2 linked regions of the Homo sapiens genome follow. The protein of the gene in region 2 purifies or fractionates together with the protein of the main gene of each other region. This does not show direct contact. Each region holds a gene or a part of one and is shown on either strand. Other genes may lie near its edges. The genes, in order: LMNB1 and SEPTIN12.

Region 1 (3,821 bases), on a different chromosome or scaffold from region 2:
CATTAGCACCAGGCAGCTATTTTAAATCATTTCCTAGACTGGAAAACAGTACAACCCTATGGAATCTCTAACTCACTAGAATTCAAGAGATTTTAAGAAATTAAAACCCAAAATTCCTCAAATACAAAACACAGACCTCAGGATAGTTTTGGCTGATAAAAGAATAAAAGACATATTCCACAAATGTAAGTTCTGTAAATATACATATAATTTTTCTGTACTTAGCCAAAAAAATGTTAAGATGTGGTTTTGGTAAAAGTCAAGTCTGGCTCCCTTACAAAGCCTTTACTTCCAAAAGTATAAATTAAATAAAGAACTTAAAAAGATAAGAACACTGGGTGGGTGTGGTGGCTTACGCCTGTAATCCCAACACTTTGGGAGGCCGGGGCAGGTGGATCACCTGAGGTCAGGAGTTTGAGACCAGCCTGACTAACATGGCGAAACCCCGTCTCTACTAAAAATACAAAAAAAATTAGCAGGTTGTAGTGGTGGGCGCCTGTAATCCCAGCTACTTGGGAGGCTGAGGCAGGACAATCGCTTGAACCCCGGAGGCAGAGGTTGCAGTGAGCCAAGATCACGCCATTGCACTCCAACCTGGGCAACAGAGCGAGACTCTGTCTCAAAAAAAAAAAAAAAAAGATATAAACACTGACTGACAAAATAAACCTAAGAGTGGGTAAAAGTACGTTTTAGCAGACTGCTGAGGAATATTCAGAAACCAAGGCAAAGGGACTCTGGTTACTATGTGGAAGGCACTACCTAGTGTCCCTTTAGGATTGCTGGGCTATCTCATGTTCAGTTAGCACACAAAGGACACACAATATAGGGTGATTTGTAAAGTATTACTGTGAATATAGAAGCTGTATATTTGGCATAAAAAAATTAAAAATCACACATCCTACACCAGAAAGTTCATCTTAGAAACCTTGTGGCTCGCTGGGTAATTATTCTTCTGTGTTTCTCCATGACAGAATTCATCTCAGTAGCCTCAGAAAGTGACAACTCAAAAAGACTGATGGATAGCTTAGGCCCTCAGAATCACAAGTACCTGCAACAGAGCAGGAGAGAAAGGGCATCTAATGTGCAAAAACTAAATCTAGAAGGCTAGAGATAAAAAGGAGCTACCAAATACATAAAAACTGTACTCTTGCTGGTAAATTTACTTTTCACAGCAGTACAGGTTCAAAATTTTGAAACTGCTTTAACATATACTGGGGCTGAACAGATAAGTAAATGGATGATAAAAACCAGGTTTCTCACTCTGAGAGAGAAAAGATACAGGTATGTCAGAAAGGAAGCCAAAATTGAATGCTGTCCTACTAGATTCAAGTCAGAGACATCTGTATGAATTCATGTTTATCTTAACACAAATGATTAGACAGAAAAAGTTATAAATATGTGCATACACATGGGTTAGCATACATAAAATGTTACCCACTTTTATCGGTGAGAGGGCCAAGAAGCAGTGATACCCAGTACCAGTGAGCACACTCAGTGCCCAGATCTTAATTTCTATATACCATTCTCCAATAACAAGAACCAGGGCTCCTTGGAGACTGGATAATTCTAGGACTGGGGCAGGGAAAATGCAAGATGAGCCTAGAGCATGTTATAGTACCAGAAAGCAACAAAGTGCTCAAAAAACAATGGGACATAGTGGCCAAGCTGACAGAACTCCCAGTGGCCAAATATGAAACAATTTAAGCCAAAAAAGTAAATACTGCAGTATTAGCTTACAACCCAAAGTATAAAGTAAATGCCCATGGTCCATACGGACACAAACAAACAAACAAACAAACCAAACAAACGGGGAATGGATAAATCGTTACAGAAGAATGCCATTTAATAAATGTAGATTTCCCTCCAGAATGTGGCGCTTAAGTCCTGCCCTGTCCTTCACCCTTGAGGGTAGGCTGGACTTAGTGAGCTGTTTTCCATGAACAGTGTATGGGAACGGAAAAATAGTAGCGCTGTTGACAGTGGAGAAACCTGACAAACACTATCTTAAACCAAACACCACCAGTGATGTCATGTGGTTATCACATACGTGCAATCCCTGATACGATGTGACAAAACGGGCACTTAAAACCCAAAACCCCAGTCTAATCACGTGAAAAGCACCGGACAAATCCAAATTGGGGGACAGTCTACAGGATACCTGGACAATCTTACTCAAGACTCAAGCTCATAAAAAACAAGGAAAGCCCAAGAAACTGTCACAGACCAGGGGAGGCATGTGGCACCTGGAACAGAAAGAAGATAACAGAAGAACTGGTGAAATCCAAATAGTCTGGAGACGAGTTCACAGTAATATACCAATGTCAGTTTCTTAGTTTTGACAAATATACTATGGTAACATAAGATGCTAACAACAGGGGAAAATGGGTGAGAGGAAAACAAGAACTGTCTATAGTACTTTGCCAACTTTTCTGTAAATCTAAAATTATGCCAAAATAACAAGGTTATTTAAAAAATAATCAAGAGTCACTGTAAACCTATTTGGGGGCAGAGGGGGTGCCTGGTTCACACGCACACACAAAAATATATTTTTAAAGAAAAAAAATTGACCAATCAATTAATTAAATTCCAGAGTAGTATATGACTTGACATGCTATTTAGACAGGCACTCCTCTTAAGATGGATATTACAAAGGTAGTCCCTGAACCTCAGAGAACTTGCATTTAACTGCGTTTGCAAAAATCATGCTATAAATGGAGAAATCCATTTCCCCGCTACCATGTTCCTTGTATTTTCTTTTTCTCCAAAAGAAAAAAAAAAAGTCATGTAAGTTCAAAATGCCTCCCTTTATTTCATATATCAGAGGTAGAAGATATATTTGAATGGGCAAAAAGGTAGAATCTAAAGGAGAGTTGATGAGAGATATAAACTACCCAAGATTCACAGATAACCTGAGCCGAGATTTATAAACCCAATGATGTCTCTGTTTGACTGCCTTTGATGTTGTAGAGCTCTTTAAGAGGGAAAAATCAAAATCTAGGTATAAAAATTTTAAAGTTACTCTGAATCATTCTGTATTTTAAATAGAAATATTTAAATTCTATTTTCAGTAGCTGCACTTACACCTGTGTAGTGAAATATAAGGAACACAGTATGAGAAGTTAGACCTAGATTCTCCTTTCTAATTCTGCCATTGAAACTACCTATGAGGCTATAAGCAAGCTGTAACTAATCTCACTAAACCAGTTTCCACATAAGGAAAATGAAGAGCTCTAACTATCTAGATGATCTCTCAGATCTTGCCACTAACCCTAAATTTTATGACTTCTGATGATCTTGGGGTTTTTAAATATTTTATAGTATGTAATGTAATTGTACTGGTTTATTAAGGTCTAGCTGCAACCAAAGTCTCCAGAATCTGGGTGTTAGAAAAACAAAAGTTAGAGGTGTTTTTAAGTACCATACTGTACTCTTCTCTAAGGCAAGCAGACTCTAACCAACCAATTCATTTGGTCCCAAGTCAAAAATCTAGAGATGCTATAAGCAATGTAAAATTTCTAATTCCAAAACATAACACTGCTACCATCTATATATTATTTAAATATATCTTGTAAAACCAGTATTTTAAAGCCATGTCAATTTTAAGTAAAATTTAAGAAGTACTTCACTAACCTGAGTTATTTAACCAAAAGGAAATTCTTATGGCCTAATAGGCAGCATGATGAAACTGATATGACTCAGCAACAAACACTATTAAGACAAACAATAGGAAAATATTCAAAAAGATAACATTTTTATTTTTGATGATTTTTCTAAGGCTAAAATTTATCAACTAATAAAAATATTCCTCAAAATATACTGTT
Region 2 (3,821 bases):
TCATTCATTCACCCACTGTTGTGTTCCCAGTGCCTGGTACAGGCGGCTCCTACAAATAGCTGTAGAATGAATGAATCCACCAATCATTATTGTATTATATGTACACTCGGCCTCTGTATCCATGGGTGCCCACTGTAGGACTTGAGCATCTGCCGATTTTGGTATCCCTGGGGGTCCTGGAACCACCCTCTGCGGATAGCATGGGTGCTATATCATAGGCAATAGTATAGTATATTTCTGGCTGGGCGCGGTGGCTCACGCCTATAATCCCAGCAGTTTGGGAGGCTGAGTTGGGTGGATCACCTGAGGTCAGGAGTTTGAGACCAGCCTGGACGACATAGTGAAGCCCCGTCTCTACTAAAAATACAAAAATTAGCCGGGTGTGGTGGTATAATCTGTAGTCCCAGCTATTTGGGAGGCTGAGGCAGGAGAATCGCTTGAACCTGAGAGGCGGAAGTTGCAGTGAGCCAAGATCGCTCCACTGCACTCCAGCCTGAGTGACAAAGCAAGACTCTGTCTCAAAAAAATATATATATATAGTATAGAATATTTCTAATAATTATAATAATACATCACCTGACCGGGCGCGGTGGCACACGCCTGTAATCCCAGCACTTTGGGAGGCCGAGGCGGGCAGATCACGAGGTCAGGAGTTTGAGACCAGCCTGGCAACATAGTGAAACCCCGTCTCTCATAAACATACAAAAAATTAGCTGGGCGTGGTGGCAGGTGCCTGTAATCCCAGCTCTTTGGGAGGCTGAGACAGGAGAATCACTTGAACCCAGGAGGCGGAGGTTGCAGTGAGCCGAGATCACGCCACCGCACTCCAGCTCGGGTGACACTGCGAGACTCCATCTCAAAAAAATAAAAATAAAAAATAATAATAATACATCAGGGGCTACATCCTCGCTGCCCCTCCTGTGTCACTTTCCCTAGCTCCCTAAGGCAGTCTCCTCTCCCTCCCGCCACAATCGCCTTCACTGTGCCTCCCCGACCTGTCCTTGTCCTGTCAGCTCTATGGGGACAGGGACCCTGTCAGTCCTCCCTTTACCGTGCACTGCAGTAACTGCACATAGCGGTGCCTGATACACAGTAGGCCCATCGTAATTTCCGGCCAGCCACTAGGGCAGCCTTGGGTATTGGGCATTGTGCAAAATGGTGGTTCTCCCCGCTCCAACACCCTAGGAAGTTGATGCACTGTGATGCCCACTTTACTGTGAGGAAACTGAGGCCCAGAGGGTCCGGAAACTTGCCACAGCCTCCCAGCTGGAAAGAGGGACCATTCCCCAGGGCTCTTTGTCTAGTGGGCTTCACCTTTCTGTGCCCTGTGATGGGTGCGAAGGTTGCCCAAGGCTGCTCTGGTTTCCAAACTGACCCCACCTGCATCCTACCCAGGGGCCCCGCACTGACCTTCAATGATGCCCCACTTGGTCTTCCGGCCCAGGACACACCTCCCGTTCACCAGGTGCTCTTGGTCAGCCCCTACCACGGCAAAAGGGATTCGGTCCTGGGAAAGGAGAAGACACAGAGATGGGAGGATTGACTTCGCTGGGGAGAAGAGAAGAAAAGTCAAGGCACCCAGGCAGGAGAGGGGAGTCCTATCCTTTTCGAGGAGGGAACATGGTAGAAAGTGCACAGAATTCCCAAGTTCAAAGACATAAAGTCTAATTGGTGCCTCTGGCTGAGTGAGGTAGCTCTTGCCTGTAATTTCAGCACTTTAGGAGGCCGAGGTGGGAGGATCACTTGAGCCCTAGGAGTTTGAGACCAGCCTGGGCAACATGGTGAAAGGCCATCTCTGCAAAAACTAAAAAATTAGCTGAGCTTATAATCCCATTATATTATATAGCGTATTATATAGCTCACACCTATAATCCCATAGCTCACTGCAGCCTTGACCTCCTGGGCTCAAGTGATATCCCCGCCTCAGTCCCCTGAGGAGTGAGGACCATAGGTGTGCACCACCATGCCTGGCTACTTTTTAAACATTTTTAGTAGAGATGAGTTCTCTGTGTTGCCCAGGCTGGTCTCTAACTCCTGGGCTCAAGTGATCCTCCCGCCTCTGCCTTCCAAAGTGGTGGGATTATAGGAGTGAGCTACCACACCCAGCCTGCCTGTCTTCCTATATATAAAGTTTTATTGGCACATAGTTGAGCCTATGAGTCATTTTTGTCTATGGCTGCTCTTGAACCATGACATCAGAGTTGAATCATCACAACAGAGACCCTACGGCCCAGAAAGTCTAAAACATTTACTACCTGGCCCTTTGCAGAAAAGGTTGTTGAACCCTACCGTAAACTCCAGTTGTTTACTTGCTCATGGCCAGAAGCAGAAATTCAAACTTGCAAACTCCGAAGTGACATATATGGGTTTTTACTTCTGAATTCATCTGTGATGGGGAGTAATGTGGATGTTGATAATATTGGGCGTGGTGGCTCACACCTGTAATCCTAGCATTTTGGGAGGTGAAGGCAGGCAGATCACCTGAGGTCAGGACTTCAAGACCAGCCTGGTCAACATGGTGAAACCCTGTCTCTAGGAAAAATAAAAAATTAGCTGGGTGTGGTGGCGCATGCCTGTAATCCCAGCTACTCAGGAGGCTGAGGTGGGAGAATCACCTGAACCCAGGAGGTTGGAGGTTGCTGTGAACGGAGATCCTGCCACTGCACCCCAGCCTGGGCCACAGAACAAGACCCTGTCTCTGCTGGGCACGGTGGCTCACGCCTATAATCCCAGCACTTTGGGAGGCTGAGATGGGTGGATCACAAGGTCAGGAGATCGAGATCACCCTGGCTGAAATAGTGAAACCCCATCTCTACCAAAAAGACAATAATTAGCCAGGCGTGGTATTGTGCACCTATAGTCCCAGCTACTCAGGAGGCTGAGGCAGGAGAATCGCTTGAACCCAGGAGGCAGGGGTTGCAGTGAGCGGAGATCACGCCACTATACTCCAGCTTGGGTGACAGAGGGAGACTCCATCTAAAAAAAAAAAAAAGACCCTATCTCATAAAAAAAACAACATTAAAAACAAAACAAACAAAACATTGTACGGTACGGGGGTTTTTAGTATTTGACCAGGGTTATGCAACCATCATCGCAATCTAATTTCACAACGTTTTCATCACGTCCCCCCAAAAAAACCCCATACCTTTTAGCAATCACTCCCCATTTCTCCCTTCCCCACAGCCCCTGACTACCACCAATCTACTTTCTGTCTCTATAGATTTGCCTATGCCTATTTGGGACATTTCATATAAATGGAATCCCATAATACGTGACCTTTTGTGTCTGACTGATTTTTGTCTGAGAAACATGTTTACAAGGTTCCCCCACGCTGTAGCAGGCAGGTGACAGGGTGACAGTGCTTCATTTTTTTTTTTTTTTTTGAGACAGGGTCTCACTCCCTTGCCCAGGCTGGGGTGCAACGGTGTGATCTCAGCTCACTGCAATCTCCATCTCCTGGGTTCAAGTGATTCTCCTGCCTCAGCCTCCTAAGTAGCTGGGATTACAGGCATGCACCACCACACCCGGCTAATTTTGTATTTTTAGGAGAGACGGGATTTCTCCATGTCGGTCAGGCTGGTCTCGAACTCCCGACCTCAGGTAATCTGCCCACCTCAGCCGCCCAAAGTGCTGGGATTACAGGTGTGAGCCACCGTGCCCGGCCTTTTTTTTTTTTTTTTTTTTTTTTTGAGACAGGGTCTCACTCCCTTGCCCAGGCTGGAGTGCAGTGTCACAATCTCTGCTCACTGCAACCTTCACCTTCCAGGTTCAAGCAATTCTCCTGCCTCAGTCTCCCCAGTAGCTGGGATTACAGGTGCGTG

Evidence for each region.
Region 1: the proteins of SEPTIN12 (region 2) and LMNB1 purify together in Homo sapiens (co-immunoprecipitation; one study listed by IntAct). This does not show direct contact.

The regions. Positions count from the first base shown.
Region 1 is NC_000005.10:126,815,057-126,818,877, reverse strand, and holds part of LMNB1 (lamin-B1), read right to left. Parts: intron 3,709-3,821; exon of another isoform or gene 3,631-3,708; intron 2,244-3,630; exon of another isoform or gene 1-2,243. UniProt on the Homo sapiens protein: Lamins are intermediate filament proteins that assemble into a filamentous meshwork, and which constitute the major components of the nuclear lamina, a fibrous layer on the nucleoplasmic side of the inner nuclear membrane.
Region 2 is NC_000016.10:4,778,280-4,782,100, forward strand, and holds part of SEPTIN12 (septin-12), read right to left. Parts: intron 1,508-3,821; coding exon 1,411-1,507; intron 1-1,410. UniProt on the Homo sapiens protein: Filament-forming cytoskeletal GTPase. Involved in spermatogenesis. Involved in the morphogenesis of sperm heads and the elongation of sperm tails probably implicating the association with alpha- and beta-tubulins.